Linked DNA regions of Homo sapiens. The protein of the gene in region 3 purifies or fractionates together with the protein of the main gene of each other region. This does not show direct contact. Each region holds a gene or a part of one and is shown on either strand. Other genes may lie near its edges.

The links. Proteins that work in one complex are often made in the same cells at the same time.
Region 1: the proteins of MMS19 (region 3) and PRIM1 purify together in Homo sapiens (affinity purification with western blotting; 3 studies listed by BioGRID and IntAct, with this or other methods). This does not show direct contact.
Region 2: the proteins of MMS19 (region 3) and POLE purify together in Homo sapiens (affinity purification with western blotting; 3 studies listed by BioGRID and IntAct, with this or other methods). This does not show direct contact.
Region 4: the proteins of MMS19 (region 3) and DNA2 purify together in Homo sapiens (affinity purification with mass spectrometry; 4 studies listed by BioGRID and IntAct, with this or other methods). This does not show direct contact.

What each region holds. Positions count from the first base shown.
Region 1 is NC_000012.12:56,738,824-56,742,323, forward strand, and holds part of PRIM1 (DNA primase small subunit), read right to left. Parts: intron 3,015-3,500; coding exon 2,923-3,014; intron 2,754-2,922; coding exon 2,612-2,753; intron 541-2,611; coding exon 471-540; intron 1-470. UniProt on the Homo sapiens protein: Catalytic subunit of the DNA primase complex and component of the DNA polymerase alpha complex (also known as the alpha DNA polymerase-primase complex - primosome/replisome) which play an essential role in the initiation of DNA synthesis.
Region 2 is NC_000012.12:132,677,343-132,680,842, reverse strand, and holds part of POLE (DNA polymerase epsilon catalytic subunit A), read left to right. Parts: intron 1-155; coding exon 156-236; intron 237-620; coding exon 621-665; intron 666-796; coding exon 797-889; intron 890-1,191; coding exon 1,192-1,346; intron 1,347-3,123; coding exon 3,124-3,265; intron 3,266-3,399; coding exon 3,400-3,480; intron 3,481-3,500. UniProt on the Homo sapiens protein: Catalytic component of the DNA polymerase epsilon complex. Participates in chromosomal DNA replication.
Region 3 is NC_000010.11:97,490,909-97,496,359, forward strand, and holds part of MMS19 (MMS19 nucleotide excision repair protein homolog), read right to left. Parts: intron 1-5,451. UniProt on the Homo sapiens protein: Key component of the cytosolic iron-sulfur protein assembly (CIA) complex, a multiprotein complex that mediates the incorporation of iron-sulfur cluster into apoproteins specifically involved in DNA metabolism and genomic integrity.
Region 4 is NC_000010.11:68,413,564-68,416,768, forward strand, and holds the end of DNA2 (DNA replication ATP-dependent helicase/nuclease DNA2), read right to left. Parts: coding exon 3,146-3,205; intron 1,545-3,145; coding exon 1,476-1,544; 3' UTR 501-1,475; downstream 1-500. UniProt on the Homo sapiens protein: Key enzyme involved in DNA replication and DNA repair in nucleus and mitochondrion.

The DNA.
Region 1 (3,500 bases), on a different chromosome or scaffold from region 3:
ACAGGCATGAGCCACCGCGCCTCACCACGAACAAGAGAAGTTTAATGTTGGTTTCTGATCAGCATTATCCAGTGTATAATAGCATGTGAATCCCATAAAATTTACTGTAAAAAAATTATGCGGCCAGCTAAATTTGGGATATTCTAAACACCATGATCTCTTCTTGGAGTTTTTCATGCATATTATCATATGAAAGACTGTGAAATACTGTAGTAAAAGATACTTTTAATCTGTTTAAGTCAGAATTTCCTAAATTTACTTGACCTTAAAATCTTTTTCTTACATAACAGCAGGTGAAAATCTTGTATTGTTCTATTAGGGCATCGTCATCTAACCTTTGAACCTTATTTGGTTTCCATAACCAAATATACCATTCCCATGCAACTACTTCTCTAAGGAGGCTAATTCAATTTATTTAAAATTCATAACAACAATTACAAACAAGGAGTGATCAATGATCTGAAACATACCTTATGGTCGGAACAGTAAATGGATCAAACTGGTCCACTTTCTGCAAATCAATAGGCACAGATATGCGACCTGTAAGACACAAAAGTTATAAACTGATGATTGTGGACTATAAATCATTATAGTCATCTCCTACAGGTTATTTTTGGTTAAAATTTTTATTTAAGGCTTAGACAAAGGGTTAAACTTATCTGTTAAGAAGAGTATTTAGAAATATAAATTACTTTCACATTAGCTGTGCCCTTACTCTTTTTTAGAGTTAATGCCTCACTTTGTCACCCATGCTAGAGTACATACAGTAGCATGGTCATAGCTCACTGCAGGCTTGATGTCCTGGGCTCAAGTGATCCTCCCACCTCAGTTGTCTCCCAAAGTGCTAGGATTATAGACGTGAGCTACTGCTCCTGGCCTGGCCAGTTTTTCAATTTTTGTTGAGTTGGGGTCTCACTATGTTGCCCAGAACTCCTGGCCTCAAACAATCCTCTTGCCTCAGCCTCCTGAGTTGCTGGGATTACAGGTGTGAATGACCATGTCCAGCATGCCTTTTATTTCTCTTTAAAAAACCAGCCAGGTGCAGTGGCTCACGCCTGTAATCCCAGCACTCTGGGAGGCTGAGGAGGGTGGATCACAAGGTCAGGAGTTCAAGACCAGCCTGGCCAAGATGGTGAAACCCCGTCTCTACTAAAAATACAAAAATTAGCTGGGTGTGGTGGCGGGTACCTGTAATCCCAGCTACTTGGGAGGGTGAGGCAGAGAATTGCTTGAACCTGGAAGGCAGAGGCTGCAGTGAGCCAAGATCGCGCCACTGTACTCCAGCCTGGGTGACAGAGTGGGACTCTGTCTCGAAAAAAAAGGAAAGAAAAAAAACAAAAACAAAAACCAATAAGCAAATGTGAAGACTGTTGAGCTATTTCCCAGTTGCTCTTATCCCTACTTTTATTTCTATATTTAGAAATAAAGTATATTTAAATATTCCATATTTAAGTTCAGAACAATCTCAGAGTTAGTGAGTCCTGAAAATAGAACAAAATAGATGAAACTATAATATTTACATTGGCTTGGTTTATTTGAGATCAATACAGATACCCACATGTCAGACACCTTTAAAAAGCATTTAGGAAATAAAATAGAAATTCCTCTACTCTTTTATAATACCCCCCTAGGATACCATATAGAATTTAACACATCTCAAAAGTGACGTAATGAGGCTGGGCGCAGTGGCTCTTGTCTGTAATCCCAGCACTTTGGGAGACTGGGGCAGGTGAATTGCTTGAGCTCAAGAGTTCAAGACCAACCTGGGCAACATGGCAAAACCCTGTCTACAAAATATTAGCTGGCTGTGGTAGCACATGCCTGTAGTACCAGCTACTCAGGAGGGTGAGGCAGAAGGATCGCTTGAGCCGATCGGTGAGCCGAGATTGCACCAGTGCACTCCAGCCTGGGTGACAGAGTGAGACTCTTTCTCGAAAAAAATTTTTTTTTGTTTTTGTCAGTGCTAGGAGTAGAGTTCATTTCATTTCTTTCTTTTTTTCTTTTTTTTGAGACAGGGTCTCACTCTGTTGCCCAGGCTGGAGTGCAGTGGCACCATCACAGCTCACTGCAGCCTCAACTTCCCAGGCTCAAGTGATCCTCCTGCCTCAGCCTCTTGAGTAGCTGGAACTACAGGCATGCACCACCACGTCTAGCTAATTTTTGTATTTTTTGTACAAAGGGTGTTTAGACATGTGGCCTAGGCTGGTGTTAGACTCTGGGGCTCAAGTGATTTGCCCACCTTGCCCTCCTCAAGTGCTGGGATTACAGGAGCAAGCTACCACATACAGTCACACACAATTTTTTTTTTATGACCTTGGATGGGTTACATCTTGGGCCACTGTTTTCTCATCTGTACAATGAGAGCTGTTGTCCTAAGATTTTGATGGTCCTCTCCAAATCTAATATGGAACCTCAGAAACCCAACTGAAAAACAGTTACATAGTAGAAACTCATCTGGTAGCTACTTAACTGACTTAGGTATTGGGTGACAGAGCAATTCTTCTACCTTTAAATCATAGACATTATATATATTCAGACCTAATGCCATGCTTACTAAAGCCAATAGCAACTCATTTTTCTTTTAGTTTTCCTTAGTTTCCTTGTGTAGTACCTGTTTTAGGATGAACACTAAAAGGGCTCTTCAGTAGATGATTGATTCCTTTGCTGACATTGATATCCAGCCGTGGAAAACAGTACTGGAGCATAATCTCCCACTCCAGCCAGGGTCCATATTTGTCATTTTTGATGTTATTCTAAAAGCAGATACAAGGCCAACATGAGGATCAGTAGGAACTGTTGAAGATTTCTTTAAAGAAAGTTAAAAAAACGATCTTCAACCATCTTTAACTGACTAGGCAAAGCAATCAATTTAATTAAGAATTGCATTATTATATCTGTAATACAGATTTCAGTGGCATATACCTGATATCTGCTGGCTACTTTCTTCAAGTGCTCCCAACGCTGAAGTGAATTGTGAGACTTTTGGAAGCTTTGTTGAAGTTCATCATGAATTGGTGATGGGTCATTAAGGAACAGACTCATTTAGGGAACATCAATGAACAATTTAGTTTTAAGTATGTATTACCACAAGGGTGTCTTACAAATATTCAGAAAGTAGTTATTAACATTTCTTGAAATATAAATGTTGACTGGGCGTGGTGGCTCATGCCTGTACTCCCAGCACTTTGGGAGGCAGAGGTGGGTGGATCACGTGAGGTCAGGAGATCGAGACCAGCCTGGCCAACATGGTGAAACCCCATCTCTACTAAAAATAGAAAAATCAGCAGGGCATGGTGGTGCACATCTGTAATCCTAGCTACTCTGGAGGCTGAGGCAGGAAAATTGCTTAAATCTGCAAGGTGAAGGTTGCAGTGAGCTGAGATTGTGCCACTGTGCTACAGCCTGGGCAACAGAGTGAGACTCCATCTCAACAACAAAACAACCCACCCCACAAATGTTAAACTCAACAGCTGTATCCGGCCGGGCACAGTGGCTCATGC
Region 2 (3,500 bases), on a different chromosome or scaffold from region 3:
GTGAATAAGGCTGGTAGTGTTAATGTAGGGGTGGAGTAAAGACCTAGATGAGAGGGTTTGTTTCTAAAGTGCTGAGTTTCCCGAAAGGTAGGAGGAAAGTTTCTCTAACTGTGTAGAGGATGGTCTTGTGTCTGTGTTGACTGATTCTCTTGTAGACCGAGATTTTAGATGAAGATAAGCGCTTAGGCAGTGCAGTGGATTACTACTTTATTCAAGATGACGGAAGCAGATTTAAGGTAAGCCCCTGACTGCGACAAGCTAAAACCCACTTTTATGGGTGTTCATGTAGCTCTGTGACTGTCAGGGAGGGCATGGGAGGCTTCCAGTGCACAGCAGCCCATAGCCCAGCAGAACTCGGGCCCCTGGAGGCCCCATCAGTCATCACGTAAGATGTCCTGAGAGAGGTCAGTTCAGGAAGACTCTGAATGGTGAGAAGTAGCGTGTCTTTCAGATTCTTGCCCCTGTGAAAAGTGCGCATTCTGACTTCCTGTATGCTACCAAGGTCAAGGCTACCCTGGCCCTAGGCTGTTCATGGGATATAGGAGCAAGCAATGTGTTTTCACTTTTCTCTCGCTTTCTTCTTTCTCATCACCCCTGGATGGGTTGGTGACTCTTAACAGGTGGCTTTGCCCTATAAACCGTATTTCTACATTGCGACCAGAAAGGTGAGTGTGTTTCATAGACTCAGGTCAGACGACCTGTGTGTCATTCTGTGGTGGGCTTTGCAACTGGGAAATAGGCAAGGAAGGAAATGTATTTTACCAATGGAAAGCCTTTTCATTCTGATCCTGATTAGGGTTGTGAGCGAGAAGTTTCATCTTTTCTCTCCAAGAAGTTTCAGGGCAAAATTGCAAAAGTGGAGACTGTCCCCAAAGAGGATCTGGACTTGGTGAGTATCACCCAGACTTTCCAGGGGTAAATGAGGCCAGAGTCTACATTGTTCCTGGCAGGTGGGATCGGAAGAGGTAGAAATTCAGGTCATCTGTTGGGTGATGGGGCGGTGTGGTGACCGTCTATAAAATTCCTTCCAAAGAGCTCTAGTGGTGTTAGTTGGTGCCACGTGCAGAGTTGGACAAGGTGCCTTGAAGTCGCCAACTCTTTGACTTGTGTGTTTACCTTTGAGTGTTTACCCTCTCACCCATAAAGTCCTATTTCTCTTGAACCAATGAGCGTGATCTCTTCGCATTATAGCCAAATCACTTGGTGGGTTTGAAGCGAAATTACATCAGGCTGTCCTTCCACACTGTGGAGGATCTTGTCAAAGTGAGGAAGGAGATCTCCCCTGCCGTGAAGAAGAACAGGGAGCAGGATCACGCCAGCGACGCGTACACAGCTCTGCTTTCCAGGTAAACTTTGGTCTTGTGAGCAAAGCATCAGCGGTTCAGAACGACAAGATGGATAGGAGACAGGAACACGTAGCAACAAAGTTACCTTAATGGCTGGCTCTGTTTGATACGGAAAACTTGAGCAATTAGGTAGAGATTTCTGTATGTTCTGTGTTAAATAAACAGTGGCTTCCCAGGTTATATTTTATGTGTTAGCTCTCTTTTCCAATGGAGGGGTGGGTTTATGGCTCTAAAATTGAGTGGTTGTAATAGTAAAGTCACCTTAGAGGGGAAAAGATCCCTCATCCTACTGCCCTAACACAATCCATCTATGAATTTCATTAAGTGCTGAGATTTACACAGCACATCTCCAGAGAACCTTGGGTATCGTCCACAGAAATTTAAGCCTAGAACACTAAACACTGTTCTTCAAGTATTTGAGCATCAACAATAATAGGATGCAAAGTAACCAGTTAGGAAGAGAAAATCTTGAGTAATGAAGTTTAGATGACTTCGGAAGAACCTACCTTACCCTCTGACAAAAGAGGATCAGTTTGGGATGCTGAACATTTCTACAGTCCCTACCCGGAGTCCGCCTTCCCTGGCAATGCCACAAGTTGCTTTTTGAAATATTGGAAGGTGTGATCAGAGACTGAGTCCTCAGAGACTTGAGCCATATCTGAGACTCGTCTGTCTTTTTCCCCCTGAATAGCCCGTTCAGTATTTGAGCTTATAGGCCAATAGTGGCCGCAATGGTGGGCCACTTCTTTAGACATGGCAGAGACCCATGCACAGGCTGTGTGAAGCCCAGGCCTGCTCTTCAGCCTGCATGAGGCAGCCTCCTGAGTATCAGGACCATGGTGGGATGGTCATGCCTGGCTCTCCTGACTGGCAGCACTTAATGTTTTCTTTCTTTTTTCTTCTATTTACTTATTTGTTTTGAGACAGGGTCTTGCTCTGTTGCCCAGGCTGGAGTGCAGTGGTGCAATCATAGCTCACTGTGGCCTCGAACTCCTGGGCTCAAGCGATCCTTTCACCTCAGCCTCCTGAGTAACTGGGATCACAGGTGTGTACCCCATGCCTGGCTAATTATTATTATTATTATTATTACTTTTGTAGAGATGAGTCTCCCTATGTTGCCCAGGCCTGTCTTGAACTCCTGGGCCGAAGCGATCCTCCTGCCTCCCAGAGTGCTGGGATTAGAGGCATAAGCCACCATGCTTGGCCCTCTTTTTTTTTTTCTAGTTGGGGTGTAACTCACATCATATAAAATGAATACATCTTACACTGAATTTTCTCCTGTCTGTAGAGTTATCATCCAAGCTATTCTTTATTTTTTTGAGATGGAGTCTCGCTCTGTTGCCCAGGCTGGAGTGCAGTGGCGCAATCTGGGTTCACTGCAACCTCCGCCTCCTGGGTTCAAGTGATTCTCCTGCCTCAGCCTCCCAGGTATCTGGGGTTACAGACATGCGCCACCACGCCTGGCTAATTTTTGTATTTTTAGTAGAGATGAGGTTTCGTCGTGTTGGCCAGGCTCGTCTCGAACTCCTGACCTCGGGTGATCCGCCTTCCTTGGCCTCCCAAAGTGCTGGGATTACAGGCGTGAGCTGCCACGCCTGGCCCAGTCCAAGCCATTCTTAAAGGAAGGACTGCCTTGGTCGTTGAAACCACATCAATTTACCTTTTGTGTTTCCTCGGTTTGAACTCTGGTCTCACCTCTTCCTACTGAGTTGGAACTCTGGTCTCACCTCCTCCAGACCCTGGCAGCTGAGTTAGTTGCTCTCTTGTTAATTCCTAGTGTTCTGCAGAGGGGCGGTGTCATTACTGATGAAGAGGAAACCTCTAAGAAGATAGCTGACCAGTTGGACAACATTGTGGACATGCGCGAGTACGATGTTCCCTACCACATCCGCCTCTCCATTGACCTGAAGATCCACGTGGTGAGTGGGGCAGGGTTGGGTCGCTGCTCACATGAATTTCCTAACAGCCAGGAGATGATCATTATGGGTGAATCCACAGAAGAATAGACTTTCCTGGATGTAGAACTCTAGTTAGCACACTGTGTGTTTTGCAGGCTCATTGGTACAATGTCAGATACCGAGGAAATGCTTTTCCGGTAGAAATCACCCGCCGAGATGACCTTGTTGAACGACCTGTAAGTTTTGCTTGTGTTAC
Region 3 (5,451 bases):
AGACTGTAAGGGTGGGGGAAGGGGTAGCAGCCAGACTAACAGGCCAAACAAACCAAGTTGGGTTCTATACCCAATTCCTTAATGGCAACACTTACATGAACTGAAACACCTATTTCTGGGTTACGAACCACAAAAGGGCATTGCAACATTTGGGAAGGTAGAAAAGGGTACTTTCTTGGAACAGCCTGGCTATAGTACAGAAAACTCTGCTGAAACAACCCATCTAAAAACTAATTTCAATAATGGGCACAGAAGGAGTTAATAATTGTACAGATGAAGCCATAGGGGACTAACAACTGTTAATAGCAAAGGATATCAATGAACTGAATCATTTTTCTTCAGCAATACCATCAAAACCCTCTGTGGATGTCAGGCTAGGGTCTATATTTGGAACGAAGGCTCTAAGACAAGAAGTGCCAAATAGGGCCCATTCAGTACCTTCTATTTTTTCATTTTTTTAAAAAAATTGAGGTAAAGGCCGGGCGTGGTGGCTCACGCCTATAATCCCAGCACTCTGGGAGGACGAGGTGGGTGGATCATGAGGTCAGGAGATCGAGACCAGTCTGGCCAATATGGTGAAACCCCATCTCTACCAAAAATTAAAAAATTAGCTGGGTGTAGTGGCATGCGCCTGTAGTCCCAGCTACTCAGGAGACTGAGGCAGAAGAATTGCTTGAACCTGGGAGGCAGAGGTTGCAGTGAGCCGAAATCACGCCTGGGCGATAGAGCGAGACTCCGTCTCAAAGAAAAAAAAAGAAAAATGCTTCTTTGGCATTCTGCATACATTAATATGAAAATGGCTGCTTTATAATTACAAATAAATAGCCATTTGCATGTGGTTCCTTGAATCCCAGTATGTGGGTGAACTCTCCTGGCAAAGCCCTTTAGTCTTCATATAGCTTTCACAAAATTCTTGAATTAATGCAGCACAAACATAAAAGTGACTATAAGGCCGGGCACGGTGGCTCATGCCAGTAATCCTAGTACTCTGGGAGGCCGAGGTGGGTGGATCACCTCAGGTCAGGAGTTTGAGACCAGTCTGGCCAACGTGGCAAAAACCTGTCTCTACTAACACAAAAACTAGCCGGGTGTGGTAGCGCATGCCTGTAATCCTAGCTACTCCGAAGGCTGAGGCAGGAGAATCACCTGAACCTGGGAGGCAGAGTTTGCAATGAGCTGAGATCATGCCATTGCACTCCAGCCTGGGCTACAGAGTGAAACTCAATCTAAAAAAAAAAAAAAAAAAAAGTATAAAAGTAGAAAAAATTAGAGAAAAATGAGGCCGGGCGCGGTGGTTCACGCCTGTAATCCCAGCACTTTGGGAGGCCGAGGCGGGCGGATCACGAGGTCAGGAGATTGAGACCATCCTGGTTAACACAGTGAAACCCTGTCTCTACTAAAAAAAAATACAAAAATATTAGCTGGGCGTGGTGGCGGGCGCCTGTAGTCCCAGCTACTTGGGAGGCTGAGGTAGGAGAATGGTGTGATCCCAGGAGGCAGAGCTTGCAGTGAGTGGAGACGGAGCCACTGCACTCCCACCTGGGCGACTGAGTGAGACTCTGTCTCAAAAAAAAAAGAAAAGAAAAGAAAGAAAAAATTAGAGAAAAATGAGATAATAAAGCTATTACAAGACCGTAAAAAAAAGTAAGGAAGATGGTGGCCAGGCATGGTGGCTCACACCTGTAATCCTTGCACTTTGGGAGGCCGAGGCAGGTGGATTACTTGAGGTTAGGAGTTTGAGACCAGCCTGGCCAACATGATGAAACCCTGTTTCTACTAAAAAAAAAAAAAAATAGAAAAATTAGCTGTCCATGATGGCATGGGCCTGTAATCCTAGCTGTTTCGGAGGCTGAGGCAGAAGAGTCATTTGAACCCAGGAGGCTAAAGTTGCAGTGAGCCAAGATCGCGCCACTGCACACCAGCCTGGGCAACAGAGCAAGACTTCATCTCCCAAAAAAAAAAAAAAAAAAGCCATATGTTCGTTTTCATTCAACATTTACTGAATATTATAAATAGGGTACCATGTTAGGGCTTAAGATAGAAATATGGGCAGGGAGTTTTGGGGAAGTCCATAGTCTGTTGGAGCAGAAAGACAAACATTCATTCATTTATTCATTTTTGAGACAGAGTCTTGCTCTGTCACCCAGGCTGGAGTGCAGTGGTGCCATCTTTGGCTCAATGTAACCTCTCCCTCCAGGGTTCAAGTGATTCTCCTACCTCAGCCTCCCAAGTGGCTGCGACTACAGGCACACCACCATGCTGGGCTGATTTTTAAAGATTTTTGTAGAGACAAGGTCTCACTATACTGTACAGGCTGGTTTCGAATTCTTGGGCCCAAGCAATCCTCCCACCTCAGCCTCCCAAAGTGCTGGGATTACAGGCATGAACCACCATGCCTAGCCCAGAAAGACATTTAAAACAATCACAGTAGGCTGAGGCTAGAGGATCGCTAGAGGTCAGGAGTTGGAGACCACCTTGGGCAACAAAACAAGGCCCTGTTCGCTACAAAAAAATTAGCCAGGTGTGGTGGCACGGGCCTGTAGTCTCAGCTACTCTGGAGGCTGAGGCCAGAGGATCACTTGAGCCCAGAAGTTCTTCGAGGTCACACTGCACTCCAGCTGGGGCAACAGAGTGGACCCTGCTTCTAAAATAAATAAATAAAACAATCACAGTGTAACAAGTTCTGTGTTACCACAGTGATATAAACAGAGATTGGGTTGGCATGAGAAAGAAGTAAAATTCCTGGGTTTATGGACCATGGGCCACTAACTTTAAGTGATTAATTCTTTTAATGGTGCAAATTATCCAAAATTAAAAATAACCAGGGTTGGCATGGTGGTTCACACCTGTAATCTCAGCACTTTGGGAGGCCAAGGCAGGCAGATCACCTGAGGTCGGAAGTTTAGAGACTTGCCTGACCAACATGGAGAAACCCCATCTCTACTAAAAATACAAAATTAGCCGTGTGTGGTGATGCATGCTTGTGATCCCAGCTACTCGGGAGGCTGAGGCAGGAGAATCACTTGAACCTGGGGGGCAGAGGTTACGGTCAGCAGAGATCGCACCATTGCACTCCAGCCTGGGCAACAGAGCAAAACTCCATCTCAAAAGCAAACAAACAAACAACAACAACAACACACCCGTAATACCTGGAAATACTATTAATTATGCACTTGGACTCCTGGGATGAAGAAAGCTAACAGAGAGTTAATTTTCCTAACGGTATTTTCGCTGGTATCAAGGAAAAAATCAGTGTAAGTTCATTTCCCTTTATAGGAGGGTCTAAGATTTTCCAACACGTTCAAGATTTGCTCTTAAAAATGGACCTACTAGCACCTCCTAACTACCCACACTTTCCTTAGCAAGGCACCAGTTTGTGTGGGGGCACTGAGAAGTCAAAGGAGTATTCATGTGATCATTGACACAGAATGCACAAACAGATCTCTGTCTGATGGAGTTGAAGCCTCTTGAGAATCTGGACTAGCAGCCAAAGGGAAGTGAGGGGAAGCGGGTAGGGTGGGAGGATGAGAAGGAGCAGGAGAGAGAAAAATCCCAATCAGGACTAAGTTCCAATCAAGCTCTCAAAATGCCCTTTCTGCTGATAATGCCTCAGATATTTCACTAAACTGTATTTTACTGTTCTTTAATACTTTGACTTAAGGAATAGAGGTATTCTTAGGGAATCACAAACATGGAAAAACACAATACAATAAAGACTGAAATGAAGGAAAATCCAAATAACTAAAAGGAAAAAAATTATATCCATCACCTGCAAATTCAACGTGTTCAAAAATCACATTCTCTGAAAATCAGCTCTCGTCCTAATTTTGGACAAAGTATTTCTTTTCCTCATCCTCTGGTTCAAAACCTTGGGGTCTTCTTAGAGTCCTCTATCTCCTTCAAGCCCTATAATAACTAGTTAGAACTCAAATTCCACAGATTCTTCCTTCAACATTTCTCATTGCATTCACTCAAGCAGTTTTTATTGTGTACCTACTGATGCCAATTTCAGGAGATTCTGGTGGTACAACTGGGAGGGTAGGATGTGGAGATGTATACAGCAACAGCTACTAAACTAGTCCACTAAATACATGAGTGGTTGAGAAATAAGTGCGTACTACAAAGATTCTGACGTATGAGATGCTGTCTGGCTGGGTTAATCAGGAAACCCTTGGGGAGGGGTAGGGAACTCAAGCTGGGCCTTGACTCTCAGGTCTAACTTCGATTACACAGAGCTAGTGAAGGGAATTGGGAAGGAAAGCACTCAGGGAACTACGAATAAAGGTGGCTGCCTGGAATTAAACGTCCAGGGAGCAGTGAGAAAAAAAGGCTGGGGCCAGGTAGTGGCAGGCTTTGAAGGCTTGCCCAAGAGGCCTTTAACCCTTAGGCTGCCAGGTTATTTCCCTCCCATCGCCTGCAGCTTCTTTACAGCTGACACTTTCACCAGGAACCCAGGTACAAAACAAAGGTGGCAGCAGCTGCTTTTGTGATCAAAGGGTGCTCCTTCTGCATTTAAATTTGCAGGCTGCTACTCTGAGTGACTGAACAGGAAGCTAGCTGGTCCCTTTAGCGCTAACAAAGCTTGATTTAGGCTGAAAGATTAGAAAGCACATCTTATTCTATAAACGCTTCAACACTCTGTTATCCTTCAACAACCCTAACTAGGGCTGTGATCTAAGATTGACAATATTAACTTAATCCTTGTCAAATTTGTTTTCATTTTATGGCTCCCTGGCTCAAGGATCTACAACAACTCTTAGTACAGATAACAGGTCATTCAAATTTCTCTGCCTGGAATCCAAAGTTATACACAATCCAACCCTACCAAACCTTTTCAACTTTTATCTGTTACTATTCCTTTGTACCAACTTTCTTTTCTTTTTGTTTTTTTGAGACGGAGTCTCGCTCTGTTGCCCAGGCTGGAGTGCAGGGGCGCGATCTCCGCTCACGGCAGCCTCTGCCTCCCAGGCTCAAGCGATTCTCCAGCCTCAGCCTCCTGAGTAGCTGGGATTACAGGCATGCACCACCATGCCTGGCTAATTTTTGTATTTTCAGTAGAGCGGGGTTTCACCATGTTGGCCAGGCTGGTCTCAAACTCCTGGGCTCAAGCAATCCGCCTACCTTGTTCTCTCAAAGTGTTGGCATTACAGGCGTGAGCCACTGTGCCCACCACCAACTTTCTTTTCTTAGGAGGGCTAAATTACAACAGGGCTAGTGTTACAGTCTTAAATCAGTTGAGTTGAATTCAAATTAAGCAACAGTTTAGACCATTTTTTTTCAGAAAGAAACAAAAATATAAATTTTGCAAAAACGTTTGTAAGAATTTAGCAGTCCCAGTGGCTCATGCCTGTAATCCCAGCACTTCGGGAAGCTGAGATGGGAGGATGGCTTCAGTCCTGGAGTTAGAGACCAACCTAGGCAACATGGTGAAACCTCGTCACTACAATACAA
Region 4 (3,205 bases), about 29 Mb from region 3:
TTTGTCCTATCTAATCTATAACCCCTCTCCATGATCAAGCCCATCCTGTGTGCCCTTCATAAATCTCTTTATAATATCAATGCTGCTTGGTTTCAGCTTTCTAGCATGATCAATACTTCACTTGTCACTATCAGAAAACATGCGGCCGGGCGCGGTGGCTCACGCCTGTAATCCCAGCACTTTGGGAGGCCGAGGTGGGTGGATCACGAGGTCAGGAGATGGAGACCATCCTGGCTAACATGGTGAAACCCCGTCTCTACTAAAAATACAAAAAAAAAAATTAGCTAGGCGTGGTGGCGGGCACCTGTAGTCCCAGCTACTCGGGAGGCTGAGGTAGGAGAATGGCGTGAACCCGGGAGGCAGAGCTTGCAGTGAGCCAAGATCGCACCACTGCACTCCAGCCTGGGCGACTCCGTCTCAAAAAAAAAAAAAACAAAACATGCTAGATAACCCTGAGTTTAATTATTATTCAGTATTAATAATAATTGACACAGTTAAGATCCATTAGTAGAAAAAATTTATTAAATAAAAAACTTCAAGTAATAATTTAAAAAAACACATGAGGTAGAAATAAAAATTTTAACATATTTAACACTCATTAAAAAAAACCCTCAAGAGAAATGGAAGATTTCCAAGCCCCAGAAGAATCTGTTACCCCAAGAATCTTTTAACCTTTGTTAAAATCTGTTACTTTTTATATATATAATATAATCACTTTGAGACAATTTTGTTTTACAAAACATCTTTACACAAAAAAGGGAAAACTGAGTGATACCCCCAAACATAGGGGCATATGAACATATGTGAAAATAGGAATCAACTTTTTAAATTTATTATCAATTCAGAAAACAAAATTTGTTGCAAAAGATGATGTAAGAATTATTTTCTTTTATATCAAAATCTACTCTAGAATACTGAAATACTGAATACTGAAAACAAAAAAGGAGGATAGTAAGGGAGGATAGAAAATTAACAGGAAGTAATCAATTCATGTCATAAAAGACTAGGTTTAGAGTGAAAACACATCTGATAGCAGAAAAAATCCTAGCAAAATGGGCTTTGGATTAGGGACCTCAAAATACAGAAAAGAATCACACTTATGTTCTCATCATCACAAGACTGTGCTTAAATGATGAAAACAAATCAAATCCCTTTATTCAGTCTTTCAAATAAAGTTCTTACAATGATATCTACAAAATCAAATTAGTCCTGAAATGTCTGACTTAAAAGTTTAAAGCTCAAAGTCAAAAGTTAATCCATCTTCAAAGCTGGTAAAAATTTATCAAACTCTTTCTCTAGGTTAGGCAAAAATGCATGCATAGAACCCATAAATTCAGACTTTTCACAGTTTTCGGTACACCTGTGCTTTAAAACATAAATACTGCATTAAATTTTGTATGGTGATAGAATTTTCTGTATGGGCACTAGCTAGAGGAGATACTGCCCTAGTATGAAAAGGCAAGGGAAATAGTGTTTTATTCTCTTTGAAAGTCACCCAATATGTGGCAAAGACTTTCATGTTCTCTTGATGGAAGATCAATGATGTAAAATAAATTAAGGAAGAAATATTTAGCACAATATGGAATGGCATAAATTTATGACATTATTATTTAACATTTTGTAATTTGACTTACAGGACCACAAAAAAAAAATAAGGATCTTTATGGCATTCAATGAATAATTATGCCTTTAAGCAACAGGAGTTATTTATCTTTTTTTTTTTTTTTTCTGAGATGGAGTTTCACTCTTGTTACCCAGGCTGGAGTGCAATGGTGCGATCTCAGCTCACCGCAACCTCTGCCTCCTGGGTTCAAGAGATTCTCCTGCCTCAGCCTCCCGAGTAGCTGGGATTACAGGCATGTGCCACCATGCCCGGCTAATTTTGTATTTTTAGTAGAGACAGGGTTTCTCCATGCTGGTCAGGCTGGTCTCGAACTCCCAACCTCAGGTAGTCCGCCTGTCTCAGCCTCCCAAAGTGCTGGGATTACAAGCGTGAGCCACCACGCCCAGCCTCAGAGTTATTTATCTTAGCCTACTTCATACCTTCATAAGAAGTATGAAGTTCTTATGAAGCCTAAGAACTTCATACACTGTTTTTTTTGTTTTGTTTTGTTTTGTTTTTTGAGACGGAGTCTCGCTCTGCCACCAGGCTAGATCTCGGCTCACTACAACCTCCGCCTCCCGGGTGCAAGCGATTCTCCTGCCTCAGCATCATGAGTAGCTGGAACTACAGGCACACGTCACCATGCCCAGCTAATTTTTGTATTTTTAGTAGAGACGGGGTTTCACCATGTTAGCCAGGATGGTCTCAATCTCAACCTCGCAATCCACCTGCTTCAGCCTCCCAAAGTGCTAGGATTACAGGTGTGAGCCACCAGGCCCAGCCCATACACATTTTTAAAAAACGATTTATCTTAAGGCCAGGTGCAGTGGCTCACCTCCTCTCTATTAAAAATTTTAAAAAATTAGCCAAGCGTGGTGGTACGTACCTGTGGTCCCAGATACTCAGAAAGGTAAGGTGGGACGACTATTTGAGTCCAGGTCAAGGCTGTAGTGAGCAGTGATCCTGCCACTACACTCCAGCCTGAGTGAAGTTAGGCACCACTTCTTGGGGGAAAAAAAGGCTGAATGTGGTGGCTGACACCTGTAGTCCCAGCACTTTGGGAGGAGGCGAGTGAATCACTTGAGCCCAGGTGTTCAAAACCAGCCTGGGCAACATGGTGAAACCCTGTCTTTACAAAAAAATACAAAAATTAGCTGGGCATGGTGGAATGCACCTGTGGGCCCAGCTACTGGGGAGGCTGAGGTAGGAAGATCACTTTAGCCTGGGAGATTGAGGGTGCAGTGAGCTCTGATCATATCACTGCACTGCAGCCTGGGTGACAAAGCAAGGCCCTGTATATAAAATAAATAATACTCCATTTTAATCTAATCATTTGTTCTGGATTAAAAAAGGGTTATAGGCTGGGGGCCGTGGCTCACATCTGTAATCACAGCACTTTGGGAGGCCTACACAGGAGGATCGCTTGAGCCCAGGAGTTCAAGACCAGCTTAAGCAACATAGTGAGAGCTTTAATTTAAACAAGCAAATAAATACTCACAACAGTGCAATCAAATGTGACCATATACAGAAGAAAAAGGATATTAATTTTTCTGAGTTTAAATGATTAAGCAGCTTCTCCAAAGGAGGATAGCAATTTAGTGA